Linked DNA regions of Homo sapiens: all the other regions are linked to region 2. The links come from fine-mapping of genetic effects on gene expression. A gene starts in region 2. Each other region holds a variant in brackets. All regions are shown on one strand. Distances are from middle to middle. Region 1 overlaps PARP11-AS1 (PARP11 antisense RNA 1). Region 2 holds the start of PARP11-AS1 (PARP11 antisense RNA 1). Region 3 overlaps PARP11-AS1 (PARP11 antisense RNA 1). Region 4 overlaps PARP11-AS1 (PARP11 antisense RNA 1).

What was found.
Region 1: its variant is fine-mapped to the expression of PARP11-AS1 in whole blood (TOPMed, PIP above 0.99).
Region 3: its variant is fine-mapped to the expression of PARP11-AS1 in whole blood (INTERVAL, PIP above 0.99).
Region 4: its variant is fine-mapped to the expression of PARP11-AS1 in T cells (TOPMed, PIP above 0.99).

What each region holds. Positions count from the first base shown.
Region 1 is chr12:3,903,926-3,912,559 of GRCh38, reverse strand. PARP11-AS1 (PARP11 antisense RNA 1) reads right to left here. Exons shown (of 2, transcript NR_183432.1): 2 at 2,178-2,676. Among named protein-coding and RNA genes, the nearest start is that of PARP11, 35 kb to the right of the region's middle. The variant T/C (reference allele first, on the strand shown) is at 6,359.
Region 2 is chr12:3,865,940-3,874,573 of GRCh38, reverse strand. PARP11-AS1 (PARP11 antisense RNA 1) reads right to left here and starts at 4,402. Exons shown (of 2, transcript NR_183432.1): 1 at 2,618-4,402. PARP11 (poly(ADP-ribose) polymerase family member 11) reads left to right here and starts at 1,175. Exons shown (of 8, transcript NM_020367.6): 1 at 1,175-1,362. The coding sequence starts at 1,345. RefSeq lists enhancers at 1-205, 206-726 and a silencer at 1,398-1,507.
Region 3 is chr12:3,898,083-3,902,783 of GRCh38, reverse strand. The region is part of intron 1 of PARP11-AS1 (PARP11 antisense RNA 1); the gene reads right to left. Among named protein-coding and RNA genes, the nearest start is that of PARP11, 27 kb to the right of the region's middle. The variant T/C (reference allele first, on the strand shown) is at 2,491.
Region 4 is chr12:3,888,318-3,896,951 of GRCh38, reverse strand. All of the region lies in intron 1 of PARP11-AS1 (PARP11 antisense RNA 1), which reads right to left. Among named protein-coding and RNA genes, the nearest start is that of PARP11, 19 kb to the right of the region's middle. The variant G/A (reference allele first, on the strand shown) is at 1,654.

The DNA of each region.
Region 1 (8,634 bases), 38 kb before region 2:
TTACACAATTGTAGATAACAGTCCTTTTGTCCGGGGGTCTGGCATTTCACCATTTGGATCTCATTCCATATGATTGGATGGAAATATAATATTATTCCCTATTTCACCAAGTGCAAGCACTCCTGGTTATTGAGTACACATCCAGCTCCCACCAGGCATCAGCACATTGCTCTTTACCACATGACAGCTATCAGACATCAAGCAAAGAGGGAGACAGATGGAGGGGAGGCCTGGCAGAGTGGTGGCATGGCCCCACGAGGGCAGGCTGGCAGGTTTAGCTAGAGGGTGACAGGATGACACAGGGCAGATAAGGATGCTCAAAGTAGAGGGGAAGAGTAAACCTCACTTATTTGCCAGTTCTCCTCAGATCCAGCCTTAGGTATGGGGAAGGAAGCCCAGGCATCCAGCCTTCAGAGCATTAGGTTCACGGTGCCCATCCAATAAAGCACCTGACCTCTCAGGGGTATTTTTGCCTAACTGTCATGTTTCCTCCCCTGCCTGGGCCCTCAAGCTTCTGCACATGGGGTTTCTGGAACTCCCAGCCTGGTAGCAGGTGTCAAAGGGGAAGAGAGACGGAAAGGAGCAGAGGAAATATAAGAACAATGGCTGAAGACCAATAACCCAAATACTACTGAAAGGGTGCTCAGCTGGGAGCCTAACTTTGAAAATATTGCTGTGTTAGTCCATCTTCATAGTGCTATGAAGACCTACCTGAGACTGGGTAATTTATAAAGAAAAAGAAGTTAGTGGACTCACAGTTCCACATGGCTGGGGAGGCCTTACAATCCTGGCAGAAGGTGAAGGAGGAGCAAAGGCATGTCTTACATGGCAGCAGGCAAGAGAGCATGTGCAGGGGAACTGCCCCTTATAAGACCATCAGATCTTGTGAGACTTATTCACTTTCGCAAGAACAGCATGGGAAAAACCCACCCCCATGATTCAATTACCTCTTACTAGGTCCTTCCCATGACACATAGGGATTGTGGGAACTAAACTGCAATTCAAGATAAGATTTGAGTGGGGACACAGCCAAACCAAATCAGTTGTCTTCTTAAACTTGAGAGAACTATAATGTGTGAAAGTTGTGTGGGCTCCAGGTCAAAAGTTAAGCCACAATCCTGACTGGAGACATGGTATGGATTTAACCTGTGGTGGGAAGGGGGATACACCATATGTGGACTGGAGTGGTCATTTTGTTGTTGGGGTTATTTGTACGGTGGCCCTAGTATAGATGTCAAGGACACCCTCCACCCTGTGCTGACTCCCACCTAGTAGAACAGGGTCAAGGAAGGGGAAAGGATAAGGGATTTACTACTTGATAATATCTGAAAATGGACGTTCAGTGGTTTGTTCATAAGACATTTTCTGCTGCTGTCAAAAATATCTTAGTTATATTCTTTTTGCATTCTGCATATCAAATTGTCCTTGAGATCAAAATGGTCCTGACAAGATGGAAAGATGAGCATCCTGTACCTCTGATGATGGCCTCTCTTTCTGTTCCCGCAGCAAGACATAAGGGACTGGGACCTGCACATCTTTACTCTCCCACTCTTAAGCTTTGCCCTCACAAATTCTGCCCACCCTTGCGTCAACATCATTATCTTAGGATTTACTTATTATATACGTACACTAATTTTAAATACTTAATATATTTTAGCTCTGTGTTTAACATTTCTTGTCACCAGTGTGCATAAGCTATGCCCATAGATGCCTCAACAGGCCCCAGGCCCCAGGCAAAGGTCTTTTTTTTTTTTTTTTTTTTTTTACACGGAGTCTCACTCTGTTGCCCAGGCTGGAGTACAGTGGTGCAGTCTCGGCTCACTGCAAGCTCTGCCTCCCGGGTTCATGCCATTCTCCTGCCTCAGCCTCCCGAGTAGCTGGGACTACAGGCACCCGCCACCACGCCCGGCTAATTTTTTGTATTTTTAGTAGAGATGGGGTTTCACCATGTTAGCCAGGATGGTCTCAATCTCCTGACCTTGTGATCTGCCCGCCTCGGCCTCCCAAAGTGCTGGGATTACAGGCGTGAGACACTGCGCCCGGCCTTTTTTTTTTTTTTTTTTAACTTGAACAAGCTAAAAGAGTTAGATCAGCAGGAAAAAAACATTGAAGAAATGATAGTAACAGAGATACCAAAATAAACTAGACAAAGAGAAAGTTAAAAAAGACAAAAAGCCTGGTGAGGAAGAGTTTAGTTATTATTTTCCAGGAAGGCAATGAAAGGCACAGACTGCATATCCAAAACCCAGTGGACTGTATAAGACAATATCCTCCAGGGCCCAGTGAAGCGTAATAGCTCCGAGACAGCTACTGATAATTCAAATGACAAAAGCCATAGCATGAAATACAGGCCTTGGGCAGCAGCATCTAAAAATAGGAGGTCCTCAGGCATCTCGGGCAAGATGGCCACACTTCTGTTGGCGGTGGTCACTCCCCATCTACATTCCCATAACATGGGCACATGCGGGTACTACACCCACACTGCTACCTTGTGGAGTTCTGTTTCTTCCCCTGGGGCACTGGTTCTTACAAGGGGACATAGATTGCTCAGCAACTCTGTTACTAGCACTGTCCTCATTAATATTTGCATCTCTGGATGTATGCTGCTCCACGTAGGAACCACTGCACACGTGGCTGTCGAGCACTTGATAGGTGGTGAGTCCAAGTTAAGCTGCGCTGTGAGTGAAAAACACACAACAGATTTTGAAGATGCAGTATTAAAAAAATAAAACATCTCATTCATTTTTGTATTGATTACATGTCGAAATGATACAAATATTTAATTTCGCCCATTTCTCTTTAATGGCTTTCATGTGTCCACTAGAAACTTTAAAGTTACATAGGTGGCTGGCATCTATTTCTATTGAACAAAGGTGGTCTAGAATTTGGTACAGTACCTAGCTCATCGTAGATGCTCATAGTGTGACTGGAAATGAAATGAAATGCAATGTACCACAATTAGTGTCTAGGAGTTGTCATTGATAACATTTTCTTCAGATAATATTTCTTTTTTTTTTTTTTTTTTTTTTTTTTTGAGACGGAGTCTCGCCCTGTTGCCCAGGCTGGAGTGCAGTGGCGCGATCTCGGCTCACTGCAAGCTCAGCCTCCCGGGTTCACGCCATTCCCCGGGTTCACGCCATTCCCCGGCCTCAGCCTCCGAGTAGCTGGGACTACAGCCACCTGCCACCACGCCCGGCTAATTTTTTTTTTTTTTTTTTTTTTTTTTTTTGTATTTTTAGTAGAGACGGGGTTTCACCGTGTTAGCCAGGACGGTCTCAATCTCCTGACCTCGTGATCCGCCTGCCTTGGCCTCCCAAAGTGCTGGGATTACAGGCGTGAGCCACCGCGCCCGGCCTTCTTCAGGTAATATTTCCTTCTCTTAGTGGCGATTTTTTTGTTCTCCCTTTCAAACATTCGTAGTTGCTTAACATAAAAGATCAAGATAGTAAACCAAAGGGCACTTCCAGATACTATTTCTGTAAATAAAAAATCTCTGTGTCCCTCTGTGTTATCCCCTTCTCCAGGATGTAGCAGTCTCTTGAGCACAGTGAGATGGCTCACCATACGGGGAGAAGCGGCAAGCTATCAACTTTGGATCTTTTCTGGAGACACTGAAATTGGTTCCAAATTCTAAATTGTCTAAACTCTAAATTCTTTTCGAGGTCATACAATGGATTCAAAGTCTATATCCATAAGAAATACTGCATCAATCAGAGCACATAACTAAAAATTATGTGTTAAATGTGGTTAAATTAAATAAAGCTTTGAGCTTGAATTAGGAATGTGGGGGAAAATGGAGATTTGGAGAAGAATTTCAGGCTTTTGTTTGCTGAATCACTAGGGAGAAGCAACGTCACATACGTTACATTTCAGGTTTTCAGAAAACTGTGACGACTATTGGAATCAGAGAGCAAAGTTGGAAGTTAAACACAGTGATAACTTCATATTCATTTTCTAGTTCTCTTACCCACATTTTCCACATATAACTTTTATCCAACACATTCCCTGTGTGGGAGAGAGTGAGCCCCATCACGTTGATCCCTGGACCAGGTGGGACTGGGCTAGTGGGGAAGGAGATGGGGGAAGGGGTCTGGGGAGGAGTGGGTGTAGACAGGCGCCAGGAGAAGACTGTGGTTTTAGGGTATTTGTTTGTTTGTTTAATTAGTTGTTAGACTGGATTTAGTTTCTCTCCCCAGAAAAGATACAGATTTGAGATGAATTTTAGATGTTTTTAGAACAGAAATTCTACTCAGTTGAATTTCTGTTTTTGCCATAGCCATGCAATCGAGCTGGAGGAAATGAAAGCACAAGTAACTCCCACCAGAATGAAAACCTTTTTGTTTCTTCCATGTCACAGAGCCTTCATTCTGTTTCTGAGGAAGAAATAGTATCCTGAAGGATTCCAGAAAAGTTGGACAATTAGACAAATATTTTTGCTCACACAGCATGCCATTTGGTACCAAAATTACATCCTCTTTGTAAAAAAAGGAACAAAAAACGTAACCCTTCTCCTGAGATAGAATTATAATTGATAGAAAGATAGAACTGAGTTGTTATAACTGTAAAGCATTTACACATATTAGAGCTTTTTCCATCGTATTTTTACTTTGCTCGAAAGATAACGGGCCGGGTGTGGTGGCTCATGCCTGTAATCCCAGCACTTTGGGAGGCCGAGGCAGGTGGATCACGAGGTCAGGAGTTCGAGACCATCCTGCCTAACACAGTGAAACCCCGTCTCTACTAAAAATACAAAAAAATTAGCCGGGCGTGGTGGCGGGCTCCTGTAGTCCCAGCTACTCGGGAGGCTGAGGCAGGAGAATGGTGTGAACCCGGGAGACGGAGCTTGCAGTGAGCCAAGATTGCGCCACTGCACTCCAGCCTGGGCGAAAGAGCAAGACTCCCGTCTCAAAAAAAAAAAAAAAAGAAAGATAACAACTCGTGCTAACATCCTCCTCCACTCTTTTTTGAAGAATGCCATGAAATTGAGGAAGGAAATGAGACTGTCTCATGTTGCCTTAAGAGTTGTAAAAACCACACTTTTACAAAAGGTGTATTGGAGTATGTCAATTGTCTTCTGCACAGAGTTAGCTTAATGGTAGTTATATAAGGCAAACTTCAGGATAAAAATTTGTCCGCTGCCTTCTCTTTATTTCTAAGTGCAGTGGATAAATATAGCACATTCATGTTGCCCAAAGCAGACACTTAGATAAACAGCAATTGTTATGGACATAACAATATGGCAATAAACCACATGTACTATATGCTTACTTTATCTTGCACATCATATGAATCATTCATTCATTTACTCAGTACGTGTGTACTGAGTGCATACTTTGTGCCAGGCCCTTTGCTAACTTCCAAGAATATGAATATGGAAAAGACAGTGTCTGTCTTCAGGAAGCTCTCAGCCTACCTGGAGGAGATTATAAGTACTAAAATTCACAATTCGATGACATTAAGTAGTATATAGAAATAGAATATAGAGGAATACAGAGAGCACTACATAAAGGTATGTAACAATACCAGCTGCACAGAGAAGGAAGAAGTAACTTAATCTGTGGGATCTGGAGCCAACTTCCCAGTTGAAATGAGTTTTCATGAAGGTCTTGAAGATGAAAGGTGTGGCAGGAGGGCTGTTCTGGATATGAACGTGCCCCAAAGAATAAAAGCACGTGCTGTGTTCAGGAAACAGGAGGCAATTTGATGTGAGTGAAGTGCGGGGTGCCTAGCAGTGGGAGTGGGAAGCGGATCTGAATTGTGAAAGATCTTGCATGCCAGCTTAAGCTTATATTTAATTTTTAGATAAAATTATATGAAATGGACCTCCGGTCAAACGGGCTCCCCTTAATTTCACACTTCTTCACATTCCCTGTGTTCTAAGTAAAAGACCATGAAAGACAAAGTATAGACAAGGAAAAAACAAACCTAATAAAATATACCCAAACATGGCCGGGCGCGGTGGTTCACGCCTATAGTCCCAGCACTTTGGGAGGCCAAGGTGGGTGGATCATGAAGTCAGGAGTTCAAGACCAGCCTGACCAGTATGGTGAAACCCTGTCTCTACTAAAAATACAAAACTTAGCAGGGCGCAGTGGCTCACGCCTGCAGTCCCAGCACTTTGGGAGGCCGAGGCGGGGGGATCATGAGGTCAGGAGATCGAGACCATCCTGGCTAACACGGTGAAACCCCGTCTCTACTAAAAATACAAAAATTAGCTGGACGTGGTGGCGGGTGCCTGTAGTCTCAGCTACTCGGGAGTCTGAGGCAGAAGAATCACGTGAACCTGGGCAGCAGAGGTTGCAGTGAGCCGAGATCGCGCCACTGCCCTCAAGCCTGGGTGACAGAGTGATACTCTGTC[T/C]AAAATAATAATAATAATAATAATAAAAATACCCAAACTTGAAACCAAGAAGAAAGCATCTTTATGGATGACTGCAAGCATGAGGGGGGTAAAGCCGTGGGCTTGCAGGGCTCTGGACCCCAAACCAGGCAGCGATGGGAAGGAGTGTGGCTTGGATAGGATAATAGAAACTAAGTGTCTACTCAAGAAACGATAGAACCAGGCTAACTGCTGAAAGCCAGGCGTTCTCAGAAGCTGTGGAACTACAGCGATCCAAGACCCGGCCTTCTAAACAGGAACTGATTAGAAATTTAAAGCTGATATGAAGCCAGCTGATTCAAAGCCAGCTCTGTGACTGGCTCTGTAATATTCTCAATATCACTGTGGGCCAGGAGCCCCAGAAAACTATCTTGAGACTCAGCTGTGGACCAAGAGTACAGCGTGCTGGGTGAAAGCATCTGCAAAACTTCTCAACTGGGTACAAGAAAAAGCAGAACAAGTGAAACAAAACAAAATGCCTTCCATTCAAAATAAGCCTGCAGACTTTCCAAAATATATGTAGAAAATAAGCGCTAAGAAAAACAGTCAAGAAAGTCAATAGTTCACTCCAGTTGAGAATAATTTTATGAAACAGTATGTCAAGGACTTAAACGGTAAATTGAACAGTAAGACTTGAACAGTAACACTTAAGGTGACTAAAGACGTGGAAAAGGAATTAGATGCCTTAAAAGTGAACAAATATTGGGAAACAAAACAGGGAGAAATGGAACAACACAGTATATCAATTACCTTCGGCTGCATCACAAACCACCCCCACAACTTAGTCACTTAAAAAACCAACCTGCATTATTTCTTATGATTCTGTGAGTTTTCTGGACAGTTCTTCTGATGCAAGCTGGCTTGGCTGGAGCTCAGTGGTCTAGGATGGCCACACTTGCACGTCTGGGGACTTAGCTCAGATCATTCAGACAGCTAGGGTCTTTCTTTTTGTGATTCTTTAGGAGGCTAACCTAGGCTTGCTTCCGTGTGATAGCAGGGTTTCCTGCAGCCAAAAAAGGGCAAACTCCAATGCACAAGAACTTCTCAAGCCTCTGTTGAATTATATATTTGCCAATGGCCACTGCTCAAAACAAGTCACATAGACAAGACCAGATTTGAGGCTGCAGAGGTATACCCCACTTATTGATAGTCAGAGTGTCAAAGTCACATTGCAAAGGGGCATATATGAAGGGATGGGGCAAATTTGGGGCAAACCACCACATGTAGACAGGGAAAGCAATCAACTGAAAATTTTTGAACTTAAAAATATATTCTGGAAATAAGAAAGCCAATATTTACGATAATCTCTAGACTAGGCACAGTTTAAGAGATAATTGGTAAATTGAGAGTACTGACAAATTTACCCAGATCTAGTACAAAGAGACAAAGAAATATAAAATTCAAAAGAGCAGAATAGTTATGAGCCCTGCAGGACAGACTGAGAGACTCCAACACATCTCTAATTTGAGTACCAGAGAAAGGAAAAGAGACTGGAAGAAATGAGAGAAGTCATTATTTGAAAAGATTGTAGCTTAGAATTTTCCAGAGTTAGAGAAAAATATGAGAACTCAGATCAAAAGTGCACTTTGATGCAGGTCCACATCACAATGAAACTGCAGAGCATCATTAATAAAAGGAAAAGCTGCCAGTGGGGAAAAATAGATTACTTAAAAAAGATTAACACTTAGACTGAAGTTACATCTTACATTTTTCTATGAAAAATTTAAGGTGTAATAGAATAGAAACCAAGAAGGTAATTGAACCCGAGAAGATAATGAAGCCATACCTACAAACTGCTGAGGGAAATTTCTATCTAGCTAATTCTCATTCAGCAATGAGGGATGGGCCAGGTGCTGTGGCTCTCACCTGTAATCCTAGCACTTTGGGAGGCCGAGGCGGGTGGATCACGAGGTCAGGAGTTCAAGACCAGCCTGGTCAAGATGGTGAAACCCCATTTCTACTAAAAATACAAAAATTAGGCAGGCTTGGTGGCGGGCACCTGTAATCCCAGCTACTTGGGAGGCTGAGGCAGAGAATTGCCTAAAGCCAGGAGGCGGAGGCTGCAGTGAGCTGAGATTGTGCCACTGCACTCCAGCCTGCGTGACAGAGCCAGACTCCATAAAAAAAAAAAAAAGGAATGAGGTGTGAAGTTAAAATTAAAGAAAATAGTAATAAAACAGAGGAGGGAAGACTTTAACAGATACAGAATATGTATGACCACCAAGAAGAGAATAACATTACCAAAAAAGTTTAGATTT
Region 2 (8,634 bases):
TACTTTAAAATATGGCCGGGTGCAAGATGGCTCACACCTGTAATCCCAGCACTTTGGGAGGCCAAGGCAGGTGGATCACCTGGGGTCAGGAGTTCGAGACTGGCCTGGCCAACATGGCGAAAACCTGTCTCTACTAAAAATACAAAAATTCGCGGGACGTGGTGGCGCACATCTGTAATCCCAGCTACTCAGGAGCCTGAGGCACGGGAATCGCTTGAACTCGGGAGGCGGAGGTTGCAGTGAGCCAAAATGGCGCCACTGCGCTCCAGCCTGGGCGACAGAGCGAGGTTCTGCCTAAATAAATAAATAAAATGATGAAACAGATTTAAACTTAATGGAATGGAAGGATAGCCACATAATCTTTAAAGTGAAAAAAAAATCAGGTTCTAAATCTATAGGTATTCTTTGATTACATTTTTTTCAATGTGTAGAGGCATAGAAAAGTCCAGAAGGATCTATAATGAGCTGTTTAATTTTCATTTCCTATGGGGTAGATCCTTTGTTGCATGGAAGATTATTTCACTCTGTTAGCTCTCTTTACATCAGTAGGAATACATCCTCATGGTTTTAAACATCTTGAGGGAGCTTTCCTGACACTCTACTCTAGGTAAATATGCTCGCATAGCACTCTCTATTCACCATATTACCTATAAATCATATTGCACTTTTTAACTTTTCTAAACTACTTTTTGCTTTCTTTTCTAGATTATAAAATCTTGAGGGCAGGGATAGTATGTAAAGGTTCCCTTGTGAGCAAATAACCGTCACTTATTGAACTCTGTGTGCCAAATACTGTGCTAAATGCTTTCAATAATCTCACTCATAGGGAGATATTACTACCATCTCCATTTTGAGGATGAAGATATTGAAAGATTATGAAGTTTCTCCCAAATGCCATTGCCAGGCCTGTGTGACTCTTGGTCGTTACACGGTGATCAATAAAAATTTGTTTCATAGGAAAGAAATACAGCCAGCCGTGGCTTTAAGATCACTGGGTGATACAGTTGGACCAGAAACCCTTTAAACTCCTTCGTCAGACACAGACTCGCAAGCCCCGCCCAGGACGACCGCCCGCGCGCGTATGGATAAGCGTGCAGGGGCGGGGCGAGCTTGTAGGAGTGGGGCGGAGACAGATCTGACTGGCCAACGTCGGGCGGAAGTCGGGAGGTTGGGTGGTCTGTAAACGCTGGCTTGTGACAGGGAGGGGGAGGAGGAAGGCCTTCGTAAAGGTTGCATCTCCGTCCCTTCGCTCCCGGGGACCCGCGGGAAAAAAAAAAATCCAACACCCAGGCCCCGCGGCTAGCCCCTTCCCACAGGCTCTCTCCGCTCGATTTTGTCACCGTTATGTGGGAAGCGAATCCAGTGAGTAGCCGGGCGGGACGGGGCGGGCCCAGGGGGCGGGGTTGATGAGAGAGGGGCGGGAGGGGGTCACCGGAACTGCTTCCCCGCGCTCGCTTCAGTCTGGGTGTTGAGTTCCGGGACCGGAGTTCCCGGGCCTTTTGGCTTCTGTAGTCTGTACCTTTTTAAGCAGTGGAAGTGCCTGGGTGGATTCTCCAATGCTTTATTGTTTTCTTGTTACAATTATTTATTTTACTTCCCGTGATGTTTCAGCCTCATCCCTTCACCATTTGTTGTTGTTGTTGTTTTTGAGACGGAGTCTCGCACTGTTGTCCAGGCTGGAGTGCAGTGGCGTGATCTCGGCCCACCGCAACCTCCGTCTCCCGGGTTAAAGCGATTGTCGTGCCTCAGCCTCCCGACTGCCTTCACTGTTTTTTGAAACTTTGTGTTTTGCTTTCTAATTGGAGTAACTGGCCTTGGAACCTGTAGTCAGTCATTTGCCTCAGGTTTACCTGCCAGTCCCACCAGTCTAAAGCAAGGGAATTGGGACCCCCTTGTCTTGAATGGGCCTAAGAGGAGCCATCAGTTCTCCTTTTCCCTTCTTGGTGGACAGTCGTTTAAAACTTGGAGTATGGACTGTATGTTCTTAGATGTTTTCGTTCGGTGGACAAAGTGATCTGGAGCATTTCAACTGCAAGTCTGCCTTCTTCCTTGGCTGACTCTGGTATTTTCATTATGACTTCATGTGTCTTTGTCTACTTTGCTTTTATACATTTATTTATTTAAAGTGCAACGTAGGGGCCGAAAACTTTAGTACCTTTCCTCACCACCCATTGTAAGGATCACAGCCACCACTCCTTAAAACAGAAGATAGGTTAACAAGGTAAAAGCAGAGCAAATCTAATCAAAGTTTTACACCACCAGGCACTTCAGAGACCAGGGAGATCTCTATTTTTATGCGTAGGACCCATGAAGAATAGACAACTGTGTAAAAATGTGACTGGACAAAGGATATACTCTAATGTTAATAAACTGAGGAAGGAAGCCCAGCAAGGTCTGTTTGTTCAGATTCTTCTTGGCCTCTCTGTGTATCATTTCTTCCTCCTACGGAGGAGGAAGGTCCCTTCTGGAATGAGGGTCTTAGCGACCTACTATCAGGCAAGGTAGATTAGAGAATTTCTTTATGGCCAGTTCCTATAGACAATGGCAGGGAAAGCTTAATAGTTCCAGTTTTTATGGCTTGCTTTGTAGGAGAGGGATCCTAGTTTCTATCACTCACCTTGGGGAAGAATTCTGGTTTCTGTGACTCACTTCTGGGACGAAAGATGGGCAGGAGACAGAAGGGCAGGAGATCAGAGGGAGAGACTGCTTCCGAGGCTGCTTCTGAGGCCTTCCAATCTCTTTTAGTTCAAAGTATTCAGCATGCCAAAGTGTCATACTTCGGGGTAGTATTTTCTGAGCCCCAACACAACCCTCAGAGAGTGGGATCTATTTGCCAAGAGTATTCTTCTGTTGTTATGGTTGAAACTGCCTGGTAAGGTGGCAGATGTATGGTATTTAAAACTTAGGAGTTGACTGGAAAAATGGTAGAATCACATTTCAGCAAGTTGTTGGACTAAATACAGTCGTGCGCCTCCTAACAATGGGGATATGTTCTGAGAAGTTCATTGCTGGGTGATTTTTTTCATTGTGCCAACGTCATAGAGTGTACTTTCATAAGCCTGCTACACACCTAAGGCTATATGGAATAGCCTATTGCTCTTAACCTAGAAATCTGTACAGCATAGTATTGTACTGAATACTGTAGGCATTCGTAACACAATGGAAAGTATTTATGTATCTAAACATAGAAAAGATACAGTAAAATAAAGTGTTAACAATCTTTGGGACCACTTGTATATGCGATCCATGGTTGACTGAAAGCTTTTATGCAATGCATAATTGTGTATGAAACATAAGAAACTACTCCTATGCTGAGATAACTGCATAAATTTACTTTAATAACCCCTAATTTCCATATTTGCAATAATTTCCTATAATCAGTATTCTTCCCCTCTCATTTCTGGAATATATTTCCAGATAAGTTAGAAAGTTTATCAGTACATTTCCCTATGTTTTTAAGTTAAGTTTTTATCCAGTAGAAACTAGTCTGTTGGTCTGGATTTGGTAGTTGCACATTATGGTTCCTTCTTGTGCATCATATAACAATAGTCATCATCTTAGTATTTTCGATTCATACGTATAATACTCTCTTCAAGCTGCATTAGAGGAAAGTAATTACTTGTATTTGATTTTAGCAAAAATAATTTAGAATAATGAGAATGTGCTCTCTGCTTATATATTCAGTTTCACTATCTGTCATCAACAACCTTCATTTTGTATTTATATCTTTATGTAGCTATTATTCCCTTTTTGTTATCAGTCCTTCTTAATTTTTCCATAACAAACCCTTTAGCCACCCAAGTATATGTCTTACTCAAGGTTTTAAATCTTTCACTATATTGTAAGATCCACAAGGACAGGGGTTTTTCTCTGTTATTTTTCCTATAGTATCTTCAACTAGAGAACAGAACCTGACACATAGTAGGCACTCAATAAATATTTGTTGAATTCATGATGGTGGTTGTACCAGCAAGGACTAAAGATAATTCTTTGCTCCTACTATGAATTTTCCCTCCTGCGTCACACATACATCAGAATTTGCTGTTGGATTATTTGTGTGTTTGTGAGAATTATAAAGGCATTAATGAATGTCTTATATACTTGATTTGTTATATCATTATCTCATTTCTTTGTAAGCAATGGGTTTTCTTTGAAATCACCTGTGTGATTTTGCTAATTTCAGCAGAGCAGGCTGACTTTTGTTAAAAGTGGGGAATCCTCCACAGATCATCTCACATTCTTCTTTTGCCACCCAAATAAGACATATTTGTCTTACTGCTACTGTATTTTATTACTACTAATAGTTTTTCTTCCTATAAGCATATGAATGATATCAGTAAGCGCAATTTGGTTTTAAAAATCAACATTCTACGTGTGGGTTTCTCTAGTAATTTGTTAGTTTATTTTAGTTTCGCTTTCCTGGTTTCACTTACCACAATTTCACTTACCAGAAGTCAGCTGCGGTCTGAAAATATGAAATGGAAAATTCCAGAAATGAACAATTAATAACTTTTAAGTTGCATACTGTACTGTGTAGTGTGATAAAATCTCATGCCATTGTGCTCCATCCTGCCTGGGGCCACGAATCATCCCTTTGTCCAGCATATCCACACTGCATATACTCTACCTGCCTGCTGGTCATATAATAACATGTAATGTCACTCACTTATTTATTGAGCACCTGTTATAAGCTAGTTAGTGCGAAGTCCCAGGGTTTACAGTGGTGAACAGAACAGACTAGGCTCCAGCCTTTATGGGTTTGCAGTCTGGTGCAGGCAGGCAGATATTAAACAAATAATTATGCAAATACATTTAATTTAAATTGTGATAAAAAGATATGAAAGAAAAAGAGTACTATGACAGTGTAGGGGGAGCTAATACTAGACTGGGCAATCAGGAAAGGCCACCCTGTGAAAGTAACTTTTATAGAGATCTGAAGGATTGAGCAAGCGTTAGCCAGGTAAAGGTTGGCTGGAAGGTGGGGAGAGCTGTTCAGACAGCAGAGATAGTGTGAGCAAAGATCCTGAGAAAGAAAGGAGCTTGGTGCTTGAGAAAAAGAGAGAAGCCTATGTGGCTGGGACACAGTGCACCAGAAGACAAGCCCAGGAGGTAGGAACCAGGCCATGCATGGATTTGAGGCACATGTTTAGGATTTTGAACTTTATCCTTAGAGGAGTGGTAACACATTGAAGGAAGTGTCATGAACATATTTATGTTTTTAAAAAGATTACTCTGGCTGATGTGTGGAAAATGAGTTTATGTATTAGAAAATATGGTAGACGTAATAATGGCCTCCTAAAGATATCCACATATTAATACCCAGAATCTGTAAATATGTTGTTACATGGCAAAAGGGAGGTAATTAGCTAATCAGCTGACCTTAAGATAAAGAGATTACCTTGGATTATCCAGGGGGGCCCCAAAGTAATCGCAAGGGTCCTTAAAAGTAGAACATGGGGACAAAAGACATGGAGTGACTATGGAAGAATGGTCAAAGAGATACAACATGGCTGACTTTGGAGATGAAGGAAGGAGGTCACAAGCCAAGGTATGTGGGTAGCTTCTAGAAGCTTGAAAAACCACGGAAATAGATTCTCTCATACAACCTTTAGAAGGGAATCAAACTCACCTTGATTTTAGCCCATTGAGATGCATGTAAGATTTCTTCAGAAATGTAAGAAAATAAATTAGTGTTGTTTTTAAGCCACTGCGTTTGTGGTAATTTGTTCTAGCAGCAAAAGAAAATACTGAGGGGGATAAGGGGCTGTAGGAAGACTAATTAGGAGGTTATAGTGTAGTCCAGGGTAGAGACGAAGGTGACTTGGACTATGTGGGGAAAGTATGAAGTCACCTATGAAGGTGACTACTAAGTGGGGAGAGAGGAGATCAATTCAAGCTGCATCTTAGATGATGACTTAGCTTTCTGGCATGGGCAGCCAGGAATAAGATGTTTTCACTGAGCCATATGGAAGATAACAGGAGTTTGGTTCTGGACTCACTATGTTTAATGTGCCTATGAAGCATCAGGTAGTAAAGTTTGGAAGGCAGTTGGTTAGGGAGGTAAGTCTGGAGCTCAGAGAAGAAGGCTGGGCTGGAAATTGAAATTTGAGCCTCAGTGTCTATAGGTAGTCTGTCACCCAAGCTGGAGTGCAGTGGCATGATCTCGGCTAACTGCAACCTCTGCCTCCTGGGTTCAAGTGATTCTTGTGCCTCAGCCTCCTGAGTAGCTAGAACTACACATGTGCACCACTACACCTGGCTAATTTTTGTATTTTAGTAGAGACAGGGTTTCACTGTGTTGGCCAGGCTGGTCTTAAGCTCCTGGACTCAAGTGATCCACCCGCCTAGGCCTCCCAAAGTGGTGGGATTACAGTCGTGAACCACCGTGCCTGGCCCCCAATAAAACAGTATTTTAGAAATTAATGTTTTTATTATCATTGAGAAGGATGATTTTTTTTTTGCAGCTTCTTACAAAGTACTTATATCTAATTTGATAATAGTTTGAGATGTAGGTTAGACCACATTTTGATTACTCTGTATGTCTACTAAATTAGGAAATGTTGTGCCACAATTATAGATTGTCAGGAATTGCAACTTGTGTTTGCTGGCGCTGTCAGATGTTTAGGAATATCAAGGTCAAATACAGACTGAAAAATTATCGGAAGATTTCTCCCTGAAGATTATATCTTGTGCTCTTTCAGTTGCGTTATTGAGAAGCCTGTAATATTAGGGTGAATGTTTCAACCAGCCTGAATGTTTGGAAGATAGTAACAAATGGATTCTTAAGTCATTTTTTGACTTCTTCAGTATCTGGAAAGTATTTTCCCATGTTTTGTTTTAACATTTAGTCATGTTCTTTATACACACAATAGTGTAATCAGTCTCACTCTAAGAAGTGAAGAAAACCATCAGGTTTTGGGAAGGAATCACATCCTAGCAATTGAGCCATTTGCAACATAGCTTGGTGACTTTGAAAAATATGGTATTTTATTCTCAGCATTAAAAATCAGGGTATTTTGGCCCTGAAGTAGTAGGTTCACGCTATTTAAAATTCTAGATATATCTCTGCTATACTCCACTTAAGCAGGCCTCTAGAAAACATAGAATTACTTTTTGGTATTGTCAGCATTATGAAGAATTTTTTTGTTTTTTAAAATCTCATCCCTCATTTCAGAAACTTGTCAGCACCTTTTTTCCTTGACAGCCAGCAAACTTGCGTGGGAAGAATAATCTTGCAAACGCTGCCATTTCCTTCTGCAACATCTGAGAGCGCATACTCTGAATAGTCAATATTTGATGATGTTTAATTTCCATTATTTCCTTCAACACTCAGTTATAATCAGGAGGCATATTGTTGACTCCTGTTTCATATAAAGAATCTTTTAGTAACATAACAGTGTATGTTTTTGCTATTTGTATACTTCATGCTCTGTCAATTTTGAATGTGTGGCACCTTTTTCAACTTATGTCATAGCTCACAAAAGTATCATTGTCTAAATAAAAACTGTCTTCCCTGTACTATAAGTTTTCACTGATATGTAGAACAAAAAGTTGTTGAGTACTTTTACCTTATATACTGTATATGTGTCAAGGACTGATTTATATTTTCTCCACAGGTAGTTTGTCCAATTGTAAAACAAAATATATGCTAAAGCACTCAACATGACAGTAATTGCTCTTCTATATTGTGTTGCATGATAATATAGCATGATAATATATGACATCCAGTAGAATCATTTAATAAAGAATTTTGGTCAATAGCTTGTTTCTTCTCAGGCATTAAATTTGAATTGACTAGCTTCTCAGCAGTATCAAGAATTTTTACCTGTTTTAGCTGAGGAATGCGTCTTTTCTCTTGGTTTCTTCTTTGTCCTTATTAACAAAGCAAATGGACTTTGTGCTTTGTGTGAAAAATAATCTGAAAGTTTACTTGAGTTTTATAGTACTATATTTAAGTAAATGCTAACTATGGCTGATATGAATGTATCAACAGAGAGTGAATATAATGGGATATTATAGTGAATGGTAACTTTAAAGAAAATAAAGTGATTTTCGTACAAATTATTAATCTTACATTTCAACTTTTCAAAATGTATGTAGACAAATTTATTTCATTACTTTGCCCCTGAAAATGCCTGTGAAATATCTCATAATCCCTGAGGACCGTCTTTTGAAGATTCTGAGAGAAAACAAGAAGGGCTAGGACTGAGCCATGAGAAACTCTAAAAGTTACAAGCTGAGGAGAAGTCAAAGTGCAAAGGAGACTGAGAATTTATGGACAAAAAAATAAGATGATCTGGAGAGTGTCATGTCATAGAAACCAAGAGAAGAGTTATTCAGGACAGAGGATAAACTGTGAAATGTTACCGTGAGATAAGTAAGATGAGGACTGAAAAGAGCATAGGATTTAGTAATGTGAAGCTCATTAGACATCCTAGGAAGTGTCTTTTGTTTGTTTGTTTGTTTTTAAGTGATGATGGGTAGGAAAGATTGGATCAGAAGCTAGAAAAGTTAAATTGGAGTGGGTGTTAGCATAGAAACTGAAGAAATAAACATAGTGTGTAGACAAAGAGTTACAGTTAATAAGCCACCAAAGGAGACAAGATGAAATCCTAAAAGCACTCAATCTGAAAG
Region 3 (4,701 bases), 30 kb before region 2:
TGCACCTAACAACATAGTTTTAAGTTATATAAAAGGCCAAAACAGATCATTTTATACACATAGTAGATTTTTAATATTCTTCTAACAGCAAATGAGAAATCTAACAAAAAAAACTCTGTAAGAATATTCGAAGAAAATATCTATAAATTTATCTGTTTTATATAGAACTCTGTACCCAATAAAAATTATAAATTTTTCTTCTTAGAAAATTTACAAAATTGGCCATATTGTGAAGACTTTAGCAATTTTCAAAGAATTTATATTATGCATATTTGTATCAATATGCAATTAAATTAGACATCTGCAAGCAAAGAGGAGAGGTGTTTTTTTGTTTCTGTTTTTGTTTTGAGACAGTCTCACTCTGTCACCCAGGCAGGATTACAGTTCACTGCAATCTCTGCCTCCTGGGTTCAAGTGATTCTTGTGCCTCAGCCTCCCAAGTAGCTGGGATTACAGGCATGTGCCACAGTGCCTGGCTGAGAGTTTTTTTTTAAAGAAGTTAAAAAAAAATAAAAAAACTGCATGTTTGGAAATTTAAAAATATCTTTCTAGTTAACTTTTAGATTCAACAGGAAATAATAATGAAAAGTTGAAAATATTCTAAACGAAGTGAAAATAAAATAATCACAAAAAATGTGTGATGCAGTAAGGTAGTATTAAAAGATGTGATTAGAACCTAAAATTTATCTGTAAAATAAAAGAAAGATAAAAAGGAAATGAGTTTGCAGTCAATTCAAGAAGGGAGAAAATAAACAAACAAACCAGAAGGTGCCACAAAGGGTAGAAAAAAGGAAATAATAAAGGTAAAGTAAAAATCAATAAATTAAGAAAAAATTACAAAAAGTTCATATAGTTAAAATTTGAGTTTTTGAATGAAAGAAAAATTTCTAGTGAGGCAAATCAAGGAAAATGACACAAATAAATAAAATATTAAGAACAAAAAAGGGAACAGAAACAAAACACATTAGAATAGAGATTAAACAAACCATAAGAGAAAATGGAAAAATTTATGCAAATAAATTTGAAAATTCAGAATAAAAGATTAAGGTTTCTTTTGCAAGGATACAGGAAGAATAGATACTGGGATGAAATTAGCAATCTTGGCCACACCTTCTAGTCCTACTTTATTGAGTTTTTTAAAATCATAATTTGATAAATTATAAATTGAATGTGCTTTCTTTATCTTTCGAGGAAAGTGTATGTTTTCCCACCTGAAGGTGGGAAACGATTAGGATGGTGGAACAACATGGTAATAGGATTCTGGATCTCTGAGACTGCAGCACACTAATTGTGTCCTGAACTGAATACCTCTGGATATCTTGGGCATGAAAAATAAGTTTCCATCTTGTATAATCTACTGCTATTCAGTCTTTTTATGTTGCCTGCAACCAAGCCTAATCCTAACTGATACACAAACACTTTAACAGAGACTATTTATAAAAATATATTACAAAACCACTCATAATGTCAAAGTACTATGAATGGTGCCCCCTAGAGTTGTGCTATGGAAAGGTCCTGAAAGCTGAAACTTGATAATTATTCCTATCAGAGTCAGGAGGAAACAGCTGCTTACCATATCTACTCCTTTTCAATATTGTATCTGAAGTATAAGTTAATGTAATAAGGCAAGAAAAATACATAATATAAGAATTTAAAAGCAGAAAGAAAGCTGTTCTTATTTTCAGATGATATAATAGTCCGTAGGACACTTTATAAACTATTAGAATTAATGAGTGATCACTAAGCTGGATATAAGACCAACAAACAAATCAATAGCCTACTTAATCACCAGTAATAGACAATTAGAAATGTAATCTTCAAAAATGTCATATTTGCAAAAATGTGTAGGATGCCTGTGAAGAAAATAATAAAATTTTATTGAAGGAAATAGAACAAGACATGGTATATTAATTAAGGTGTTTTTACATGCAAGTAACATATATCCAACAGGAAGTGTCTTGAAGTAATATTTATTACTTCACATTACATGAAGCCCAGCATGGGCAGGTTCAGGGTTGCTTAATCCTGCAACTCAAGGATGTCATCAAACACTCAGGATCTTTCCATCTTTCTGCTGAAGCATCTCCAACAAGGCTTTTATCTCAGGTTTGTCCTCTCCCAGTTTCAGGATTGATGTCATAGTTAGAGTCTATGTGTAAAGACCTCTTCACATGACTCTATTCCAGAGGAAGTAAAAGAAGTATCTCTTTGCACATCTATTTTTTTGTTATCAAACTTTTCCCATAAACCTTTATCTCATGTCCCCCAGGATTGAGTCATGAGGCCATGCCTATGGAAGAATAGGAAAATCTCTCATATTTTCAGTCTCTAATATGGGAAGCATTCTCTGTAGATAAGAAAGGAAGTGGAGTGGGCTAGTACTGATGAGTAGGCAACCAAGAGGTCCTGCCACATCCAAATAAATGGATGGGACGACTCAATATCATTAGGTTGTCAGCTGTCCTTCAATTTTAATATATTAATCAAGTG[T/C]AATTACAATCAAAATCAAAATACTTTTTTTATGGAACTGGAAATGCTCATATTAAAATTAATGTAACAGAACAAAGGTTCAAAAACAATTTTGGAGGAAAAGAAGTGGAGGCAGCTGTCCGACTAGAGAGCAAAACATTTTATAAAGCCATGATAATTAGATGGCATGACTGTGGCACAGAAGCCACAAACTAACAGAAGACGAAAGAGAGTCCAGACACAAGCCCATACATATATGGAAATCTGAGATATGAGAGATGGCATGTTTTCACTTTTGAGATTGTGGTTCCACAAACAACAACAAAATTCATGGCTTCTTTGATGAAAATGAAAGTCTCACGCACCCTCAAAATAATGTGCTCTCCTAAAAGTGTCGAGAATTATAGTATTGCCTATATATAGCTCTGGTAAGCAAAACAAACGTATTCATGAACAAATTGCTTTGATTTTTCTTTTCAAATAATTATTGTATTGCTTCTATATGCTATAAGTCGTACTTCACTTCCTCCCAAGATTCTGAAATGTGCACCACTCTTGGATCCGCAGTCCCTCCCAAATGGGTTGGCATCTCTGTGCCAAGCAACAAGAAGCCTAAGAGGAACTCAAAACAGGGGGCTGGCATGATCGGATGTGCATTTTAGAAAGATCACTGGGCGGTGGGAGGATGGGATACAAAAGAAAAATAACATGCCCTTAAACCCTTGTCCTAAAGTGTTTAAATTGTAGCCGAAGAGACACCAAATACAGAGTGTAAAGGACAAAGAACCTTCACAGCCCATCAAAGAGTGCACTAGGAACTCACACAGAGAACAGCAGCATTGCATCCTGGGAAGTGGCAAGGAACTAGAGGTGGATGGCTGGGTTTTGTCACTCCAGCACTTTGGGCCTCAATTTTCTCAACTTTAATAGTGGGATGATGTCAATATCTACTTCCCAAAGCTGTTACAAGAATTAAACTATAAGTTCTATCTGCAAAGTGCTTTGCTGACTGTAAAAAACTACCTAGATATGAGCCAAGGCCAAGTACACAGACGTGTGTTCTAGTTCTGAGCTACAGTGCTTACTCTAGCAGTGAGATTAATGTCATTGACTTCTTTGCTCCTTACCTGACTTGGATTTCTACATGTGAGCAAGGTCAAAGGAAGGCAGTTTGATAACTCAGAAAGAATCACCAAATCTTCTGATTGGAAGGCATCTTTGAGGTTATTATTTCAGTCTCCCACTCCATGTAGGAATCCTCTCTACAAGTTCCTGACCCAGGTGGTTGTCTTATCTCCGCTTGCACCTTGCTGTCATGGAGATGTTACTCCCTCACAAAGCAGCTCAGCCTGTCTGTGGACAGTGGGCATTGTTAGAAATAGAGCTGAAATCAGACTCCCTTCAGCCTCTGTCCACTTGTCTTAGTTCAGCCCTCTGGAACAACACAAAACTAATTCACTCCCTTTCTCATTTGACAGCTTTTCAAGGGTTTGAAGACAGCTATCAGAGTTGTCTATGTGTGCCCTTCTCTGGAATAAACGTTCCCGGTTTTCTGAACTGCCCCTCTCAGGTCGTGGTTTCTAAGATGCTTCACTAGTCCAGTTATCCTCCCTGGACTGATCACTGCTTTGTCAGTATCCCCTTTTAAAATCTAGTGCCACCTTCCTGCCACCACATCTAAGTGGAAACAGCCTAAATGTCCAAGAGCAAGTCAATTCAAACAAATTATGGCATATCTACACAATAGTATGTTGTATAACTATTAAAACTGGGTTTCAAAGAATATGTAAGTTGAGGAAATAATTCAGGACATAATGTTAGTTTTTTAATGTAGAATATAAACACTACCTAACCCACATTTTTAGTACTTCCATGTGCCTCATGGAACACAAGTCTCCAGAAGAGACTTGAAGGACATATACCAAAATGATAACAGTAGTGATCTCCAAATGATGAGAGCTAATTTTCGTTTTCTTCTTCATACATTTCTGTACTTCTAAGTTTTCTACTATGAATATATTTTGCTTTCGTGATTTACAAAATACAAAGACCACAAAGTTGAATGTGAAGAAGAAACATGGTACCAGGAATAAGCCCTCATGCTCTGAGGCAGATGGGCCAATGGCACCCTCATCACCCTTGCTCTGCCTGTTACAATTCCCCTTATGCTACCTGGCAAACACTAGTTGTTTTGTAGCCATGTCAGAATTTTTTGGCTCATGTTGGGCTTTT
Region 4 (8,634 bases), 22 kb before region 2:
AGCCTTGCTAACACTATGGCTACAAGCCTGTGACACTCTTTGCTTTTCTTCTCCGGTGATGTGCCCTGCTTAGTGCTTTTGTAAAGGCTCTTTGAAAACCTGAGAGTGCTGGAGGGCTTCCCCTGCTGGCTCGGGGTCTTCCCTTTGCTTCCTAGTCAGGATCACTGGAGACTGTATTGCCAGAATTTAATTTTGGAAAGAATGTTGCTTTAATGCTTCTTCTGTCCTCTCATTCTTTGAAAACAAAACAACAAAACAAAACAAAATAGTACAACAACAACAACCACCACAAAAATCACAGCTGCAAATGAGGTCTGATTAGAAACCAGTACAGTGTATTTAGGCTCATCATGGTAAAAAAAAATCTGACAAATGATAAAAAGCGTTGCTTAGTTTGCTTTAAATAAGAATGTGGAGGAACTGTTTTTTCTAGTTCATTGTGCAATGAGAAAAAAGGGAGGGAGCAGAGATCCAAAAAACAAGGACAATTAATATTGAGTAGCAACTACGTTCTTTCATTTAATCTTCATGTCAGTCCTGGAAGCACTGTCCTGATTTAGAGATGGAGAAAAATGAAGCTTAAGTTAAGTGACTTAGAGTAACTTTGTAAACCAGTGGGTAGAACCAAGGGTCAAACTCAGGCAGTGTGATTGGACTGCTCATGTGCTTTTTCCTACATTACGGGTATAGGTAAGCAGCTCACAAAACCATTCCACCCAAAGATGTGTTTTTTGGACCCTATGGCATTTAAAAAAATGTTTAGATTTATTGCCGACATTTATAACTTAGGAGATTTTACGTTCACTTCTAGAATCCTAGCTACTTTTGAGAACCTCTGGCCCTACATTTCCCCCATGGAAACCATTGGCCAAGTGGAGTAGTGGCGATCTGCCCTCTCCAGGTTGCCCCAATCCCCACCTTCCCCCTCATTTATATTCCCCGCTTGGTCCTGTTAGATGTTTGAGTTTGCACTGCCTTAGGCTATGCTGATACTCCATTGTTTTTCCTGGTTTCTGAGAGAAAGCCTTCTGCCATATGGAAAAGAAGGGAGCAAAGGTTATGAAAATCAAAGATATGTCTCTTGCACTCAATTCGGCCTTATTATTCCCCTGGAAAGGGCCTCCCAGAATCTTAAGAGGTTCCGAAAAAGAGTGTGCTTGTTTCACTCAGCTTGTCCCAGGATCCTCCATTCCCAATAATGGACTCCCTTTTGCACTGTGTTTCTTAAACCACAGAGTCTAACAAGAACATCATTCAACTTTTTAAAGCCTGTATGTATGGGCAAGAGAGCCTGTTCATATGACCTTCTAAATAGGACTCTTGGGCACGATCAGAATGTCTGGCTAAGCCTGCCTTCGTGGTTAGACACCACTAACAGACCATTGAAAATATGCACGTCGTAGATCATAGAGTGGACAGAACCTAGGCTGAGGATCAGGAAATCTGTTTTTTCATCTTGGTTCTGGTGTTAGAGGGATACCCAGTGCATAGAACATCACAGAAACACAGACCTCAAGGGGTAAGTCCAGAATGGGGGCTGGTAGTTAGAATGAAGACTATAGAGGGAATCTGAATATCATTTTGAAGGGAGAGATCCATCCATTCATTCAGTCACTCTGTGAATATGTATTTATTATGCACACACTACATGTC[G/A]GACACAGTTTAGGCAATGAGAATTCAGAATTGAACCAGACAGACAAAAATCCCTGCCATCATGGAACTTACATTTCAGTAAGGAGAGATAGACAAGTGAAAAAACCAAGTAAGTAAATATCTTTGGTCAACTGGTAATAAGACTGTGGGAAAAATCAAGCAGGGTAACTGATGGTTATGAAACTTTGAGGCTGGGAGAGGGGGGTATTTAAAGAAGGTAATCAAGGCCTCTTCACAGGGAAAGTGAAATTTCAATTCAGGCCTGAAGGAAGTAAGAAAGCAAGCCATGGGGATTTTTTGAAGAAAAGCATTCCAGGTGAAGGGAAGAACAAGTGCATAGACCCCGAGGTGGACTGTGCCCGGCATGTTTTAGGGCGAGCAGAGGCCAGGATGGCTGGAGCAGAGTATGCAAAAGAGACAGCCATTAGACATGGAGTCTGACAGGTGACAAGCGCCCATACTGTGGAGGGACTTGCAGGACATCGTGTTGAATACTGATTTTTGCTCTTATTATCCTGGGAGGCAGGGAAGTGACATGATCAAGCTTATAGTTGAACAGGATAACACTGAGAATTCTGTTGAGAATAGTATGTAGGCAGCTAGGGCAGAAGCGGGAGAGCAGTTAGGGGGCTGTCACATAGTGGCTGGGCTAGGGAGTAGCCTTGGAAACAGCAGAACATGGTTCTATTCTGCACATAATTTGAAGGTAAAGTGAACAGGATTTGCAGAGGCATCAAAAGAGAGAGAGCACATGTGAGAGGAAGCTCTAAGGGTTTAAGCTTGAGCAACCAGACCCATGGCCATTAACCGAGCTGGGAAAGGCTGTGGAAGGAGCAGGTTTGGCATCCAGACCAGGAGTTCTGTTTTTTGATACATTCGGATACCGATTAAACATTCAAATAGAGATTGTGAATAGGCAATTGGGCATGTGCATGTGTAATTATAAACATGGGCATCAAAACCATATTGATTATGTTTAAAACTCATAGACCGAATGAGATCACCAAAGAAGAGAGTAGAATTAGAAAAAAGAAGAGATCGGAGTACTGGGCTCTGGGCATTCTAACATTACAAGGTGGGGACCTGAGATGGAATCAGCAAGGAAACTGGAAAGGAGTATCCAGGAAAGCTGGAGGAAAACCTGGGGGGGAAGTCTTCTCAGAGGCCAAGTGAGGAAAATGTATTCCAGAAGAATGGAGAGATCAACTGTGCCATGTGTTACCTGAGGTGTCCAGGATGATGAGGACTTAGAAATGACCATAGGATGTCATGGTGAAGAGATGATTGGTGACCTTGATAAGAACAGTTTTGGCGCTGGTGGTTTGTGCATCGGAGAGAGAGTAGGAGGGCCTGGGTGCTGTGAAGTCCTAATTAGAATGACTCCAACAGAGGATGTGGGAGAAGAGAGGTCTGACATGGTGAGCAAGAACAACTATTTAGAGGAGTTTTGCTGTGTAGAGAAGGAGAGAAACGGGAGGAAGTGGGGTTAAGAGCGGTGTCCTGTGTGTGTGTGCGTGCGTGCATGTGTAAGATGGGAGCAGGTCTGAAGGCTCATGGGATTCATCCCGTATAGAGAGGAGAGCTGATGATTCAGAAGAGAGGGGAGAATGCTAGGATAGTGGTGGGATCTGGGGCGCACATGGACAGGGTGGTCTTTGTCAGGAAGAGAGCTACCTCATCCATGGTAATGGTATAAAAGCGAGACACAGAGTGACTGGTAAGTCGATTGACAGAAGCCGATAGCAATAGCTGGTCTCCTCAACAAGCCAAAAATGGGGTGTGGCAGGATAGAACTCAAAGGGCCAGGTCCAAAGGCTCATGGAGCTTTTGGTTGGTAAGGAGTGTATTTATCCCTCCTTGTAACTGAATCCGAAAGACATCAAGTGGAGGAATGCTTTAAACCATGAGACAGGGCCAGGTGCAGTGGCTCACACCTATAATCCCAGCATTCTGGGAGGCGGAGGTGGGAGGATAGCTTGAGCTTAGGAATTCGAGACCATCCTGGGCAACATCTTGAGACTCCATCTCTACAAAATATTAAAAAAATTAGCCAGGTATGGTGGCACATGCCTGTGGTACCAGCTACTTGGGAGGCTGAGATGGGAGGATCGCCTGACCCTGGGAGATCCAAACTGTAGTGAGCTATGATTGAGCCACTGTACTCCAGCCTGGGGGCAGAGTAAGACCTTGTCTCAAAAATAAATAAATAAATAAATAAATAAATAAACAAACCATGAGACAGAGTACACCTGAGAGTCACAGTTAGGAGCAAAGACTGGGAGTTGCCATCAGGGCTGAAGGCTAAAATCATGAGACTGGATGAGCCTATTGAGAATGAGGAGAGCGCAGGCCAAGGAGTGAGACTTGCAGGACACCGACACTCAGGGACTTAGGGAGCAGTGAGAGAGAGAAAGAGAGAGAGAGAGAGAGAGAGAGAGAGGGAGAGAGAGAGAGAGAGTGAGAGAGAGTGAGAGTATGTGTCAGGGTGGAGCAGGAAGCAGCAAAGGCAGAAATAGGGCATTGCTTTGCTAGTTCATAGCCTACTTTCTTCCCTAAAGAAGGGAATACAACTGAGCATGCAAGAGAGGACCAGATGTAGACAATTTCCTGAAGGAAGGAGACATCAGCTGGGCCACCTGCTTCAGGGAGGCCTGGGAAGAGGGGAGGCTTGGAAATATCACCAGATTTGGGAAGAAGGTCACTGGCTATTGAGGGAGCAGGTACAGAAGAGGAGTTTGGGCAGATGCCCAATTGCAGGGGCTTAAGATGTGATTAAAGGAAATGGAGACAGGAGGAGGGTGTGAGGCCATACCCATTGAAATAGTGCTCCTATGGAATGAAAGAAAAACATACGGAGGCTCTAAGGACCAAGCACACAATCTTACGGGAGTTCTAGCATGACATCAGAAGGACTCATGGAGTGGACGAGATCACGGAGAGAAAGGGCCAAGAGACTCTGGAGGTGATGGTGCACCCACGTGGTTCTCAAGATTGTCTGTCTAGGTTTTCCTTGTAGCTCAGCTGGAAGCTTCACATGGCAGGTGGAAGGACATTTCCAGACCCTTCATTACTGCCATAGCTTTTGGAAAGATTGAATACAACAAGGGACAGGGAAGTGTGATGTATTGTGTCCTAAAAACCCCTCAGAAAAGACAATTTGAAGCAGAACATATAAATGATATCTTGTGTTACTTTCCTCATTCCCTTTCTTATTTACTTTTCCCACATGCCTCTAAGTCTGGATGCAATTGTGTGTCTCTAGGAGGTGTTCTAACAGGCTTCTAGTCACCATGAGAAATCTTAGAGTCTCCTCTTGGAGCTGATGACTTCGGGTCTAGACCCTGAAACATAATATTCTACTATTCACAGTAGAATGAAATGGCTTCAAGTCCCTGCATGTCCCATGTATTACATATTTAGTATGTAATACTTACAAGAAATGTGACCCTGGACAAGGGGCGAGGCTTCCCTGGGCCTGGGTTTTCTCAGGTAGAAGGAGAGCATGGTCGTACCTCTGCTGCCCAGCCTCTCGGGGAGCAGGCTTTCTTCCCGAGCGATGCAGCAGGAGAGCAAGGAGGAAAGGAGGTGACAAGGCAGAGCAGAAGAGGAGAAACTGGGTGGGGAAGCCAGAGTCCAGGCGATGGACTGGCCTGGGATTTGTAACTGGACGGAGGCTGAGGTGGGTTGAGGGTCTGGGGCTCAGGCATGGCAGGGATAAGGGTGGCTTCACAGGAAGGACTTCCCAGGGCAAGTGCTTTCCTTGACTCAAAGTGACGAGCTTTGACAGGGCTTTGGGAAAAGGGGGAGATGTGGCTTAGGTGATATGCTTTCTGGATGACTGTCGATCACGAGGGAGCTAAGGTGCAGGAGTTTACGTTCCCGGGCCTGATGATGGGGACAGCCCAGCACGTGGCCGGGCAGTTTCTTCACACACTTTTAGTTTTGCTTTCTTGTAAAGAGTTCCAGTGTTATCATTATGTTTAGCAGTTATAAACACTCCCGTTTATTACAAGCTTACTAAACACCAGCTTTACATATATTTGCGTGGGAAATTTGTACTTATCACCCCCAACCAAGCCTATGAAAGCACCGTACAAACACTGCTTTGTAAGCCTTGGACTGACTTGTCAGTTTGCAGCTTTGCTTATAATGGTACACGGTTTGGCCTTTCAACTCCTGACTTTTTCTTGGTGATTGAAGACTAGAGGTAGTGACCACAAAGGAAGCTAGAGCCTCTTCTCATGTGTGTGAGGAGGACTCTGGAATAGGAAGAAGGGTGTCTGTGAGTGCTGGACTGGGCATGCCGCCCAGGAAATAAGATCCTCACTTTGTCCTGCATTTCTCCTTTGGTATCAGCCCCTGGCCACAGTGGAGACACAAATCACTATTGTAGCACCTGTCATCCCACGGAGTGTGATCTGTTTATTTGATTGTCTCTCCCTTAAGATGGCATGTGACCTTTTTGTGAGCAAGGTCTCTCTCTCTCTCTCTCTCTCTGTCTCTCTCTCTCTCTCTCTCTCTCTATATATATATATATATATATATATATTTTTTTTTTTTTTTTTCTTGAAGCAGAATCTTGCTCTGTCCCCCAGGCTGGAGTGCAGTGGCACAATCTCAGCTCACTGCAAGCTCCGCCTCCCGGGTTCACGCCATTCTGCCTCAGCCTCCCAAGTAATTGGGACTACAGGCACCCACCACCACACCCAGCTAAATTTTTTTTTTTTGTATTTCTAGTAGAGATGGGGTTTCACCGTGTTTGCCAGGATGGTCTCGATCTCCTGACCTCGTGATCCACCCACCTCGGCCTCCCAAAGTGCTGGGATTATATGCGTAAGCCACCGTGCCTGGCCTATATATCTTTTATATAACTCCACGTCCCTAATGCCCATGTTCTCAACAGGGTTTGGTACACAGTAGATGCTCAGCAGCACATGTTGAACAATTGAATGACTTCTTGTCTCTGCTTTGTTTCTGGCATGCTTTGTGAGCTTGTGCACTGTTGATTTTTGGAAAGGCATTATTTTTCCTATGTTACAATCTTATCACAAGTCTTTTCTCACAGCTATTTTACTATTAGGACAATGGTGTGATTCTACGGTGTTAACTGACTTATTGCAACTTATAATTTACTAGGAACAAGCATTTCACAGTGTTGGGGGTCAGGGAGGCCAATCCTCCCTTTCCACGCGCTCACATATTTAAACAATCCATGTCTGCTGGGATGTATATCTGGTATGATATCGAACACACAAAAATAGTTTCTCTATTATTAAAAACTGTAACTATGCCACTTTTTAGATAAAATGTAAACCTGGCCTCCAACCCAAAGATTTAGGCTGTCTTGGCCAATATAGGGAAAGTTAGATTAGGATAGGGTTGGCATCGATGAGTTCAATTAGTAATTGTGTGTATTCTGCAACTTTTCTCAAATCCCTTATCTATGGTGACAGGGGAGGAAAGTGAGCTAGTTTAAGAACTTCATTATCAATTGTATAATAAATCCTTTTATTCAGATAAAGGATTATTATACGTTTTAAAATAACATGCTTTCTAGTATTAAGCTACCTGAGCAATGGCTCACCTTTCTGTTACTCCTAAATTGAAAGAGAAACTACCATGTATTACATAGTTACCCAAATGCTCTGATCAGAAAAATTATATATAATGGCTTCAAATTCATTCAGTATTTCTCCATGTTTATTAAGCATCCCCAGAACAGTACTCAATGTGGGAAAGGCAAGGAGAGCTGGGAGAGAGGACCCCCCAAGACATGCAGATCAATAACAATACAATTCAACATTTCCACACCCAGATGTCACAGATAATATTATTTTTTAGTATCAGATGATCTGCACTGAATGCATTAGAAATTTAGAGAAAGGAGGGCCGGGTGCAGTGGCTCACGCCTGTAATCCCAGCACTTTGGGAGGCCGAGGCGGGCAGATCATGAGGTCAGGAGATCGAGACCATCCTGGCTAACAAGGTGAAACCCCGTCTCTGCTAAAAATACAAAAAAATAGCCAGGCGTGGTGGCGTGCGCCTGTAGTCCCAGCTACTTGGGAGGCTGATGCAGGAGAATGGCAGGAACCTGGGAGGCAGAGCTTGCAGTGAGCCGAGACTGCGCCACTGCACTGCAGCCTGGGTGAAAGTGTGAGACTCTGTCTTACAATAAATAAATAAGTAAAAGCTCATGTTAGCCTAACATAAATTTAATCTCACACTCCAGCCTGGGGGACAGAGCGAGACTCTGTCACAAAGAAATTTAAAAAAAGAAAAAGAAAGAAAGAAATTTAGAGAAAGGAGTGTATCATGATGTGGAGTAGTTAGGAAACACTTCCCAAAAGAGAATTGGTAAGTAAACGGGGCTTTAAAGGAGGGGTAGAATCTGACTGAGAGACGTGGCCGGGAGATATTCTACTTTAGGGAAGTAACCTTAGCAGAAGGACTGGGAGGGACATGCACGTGCATATTCAGAAAGAGTGGCTGAGTCCATCTGCATGGAGAGCAGGTTTGAACCTGGGAGAAGTAGGAGATAAAATTGGACTAAAAAGTGGGGACCAAGAGTGTTGCACCCTGAGCGTCACACTGAGGTATCGGAATTCTAAGCCAAAATGCATTTCAAAATAAAAAAAGGGTAGGACACATTTTATTCAGGGGAAACTAAAAGCCAGGATAAATGAGAAAACTTAGTAAGAAAATGTCAGATTACTTGAGACATAGAACATAGGCCGTTAGACCTTGAAGGGACCTTCAACTTCATCTGATACAAATGCTTTCTTTCACAGATGGGGATATTTAGGCTAAAACAAAATCAAAACCTGCCCACGCTCACTCAGCTAGTAAATGGCAAAGCCAGAGCTAGAAACGAGTGTGGTGTTCTTTTCACCCCCCTTAATAAATTCAAATCTCCAGACTTAGACAAATCACGTCCCAGGTTACTCAAAGAACTCCCAGAACCATTGTCAATAATCCTTGAAA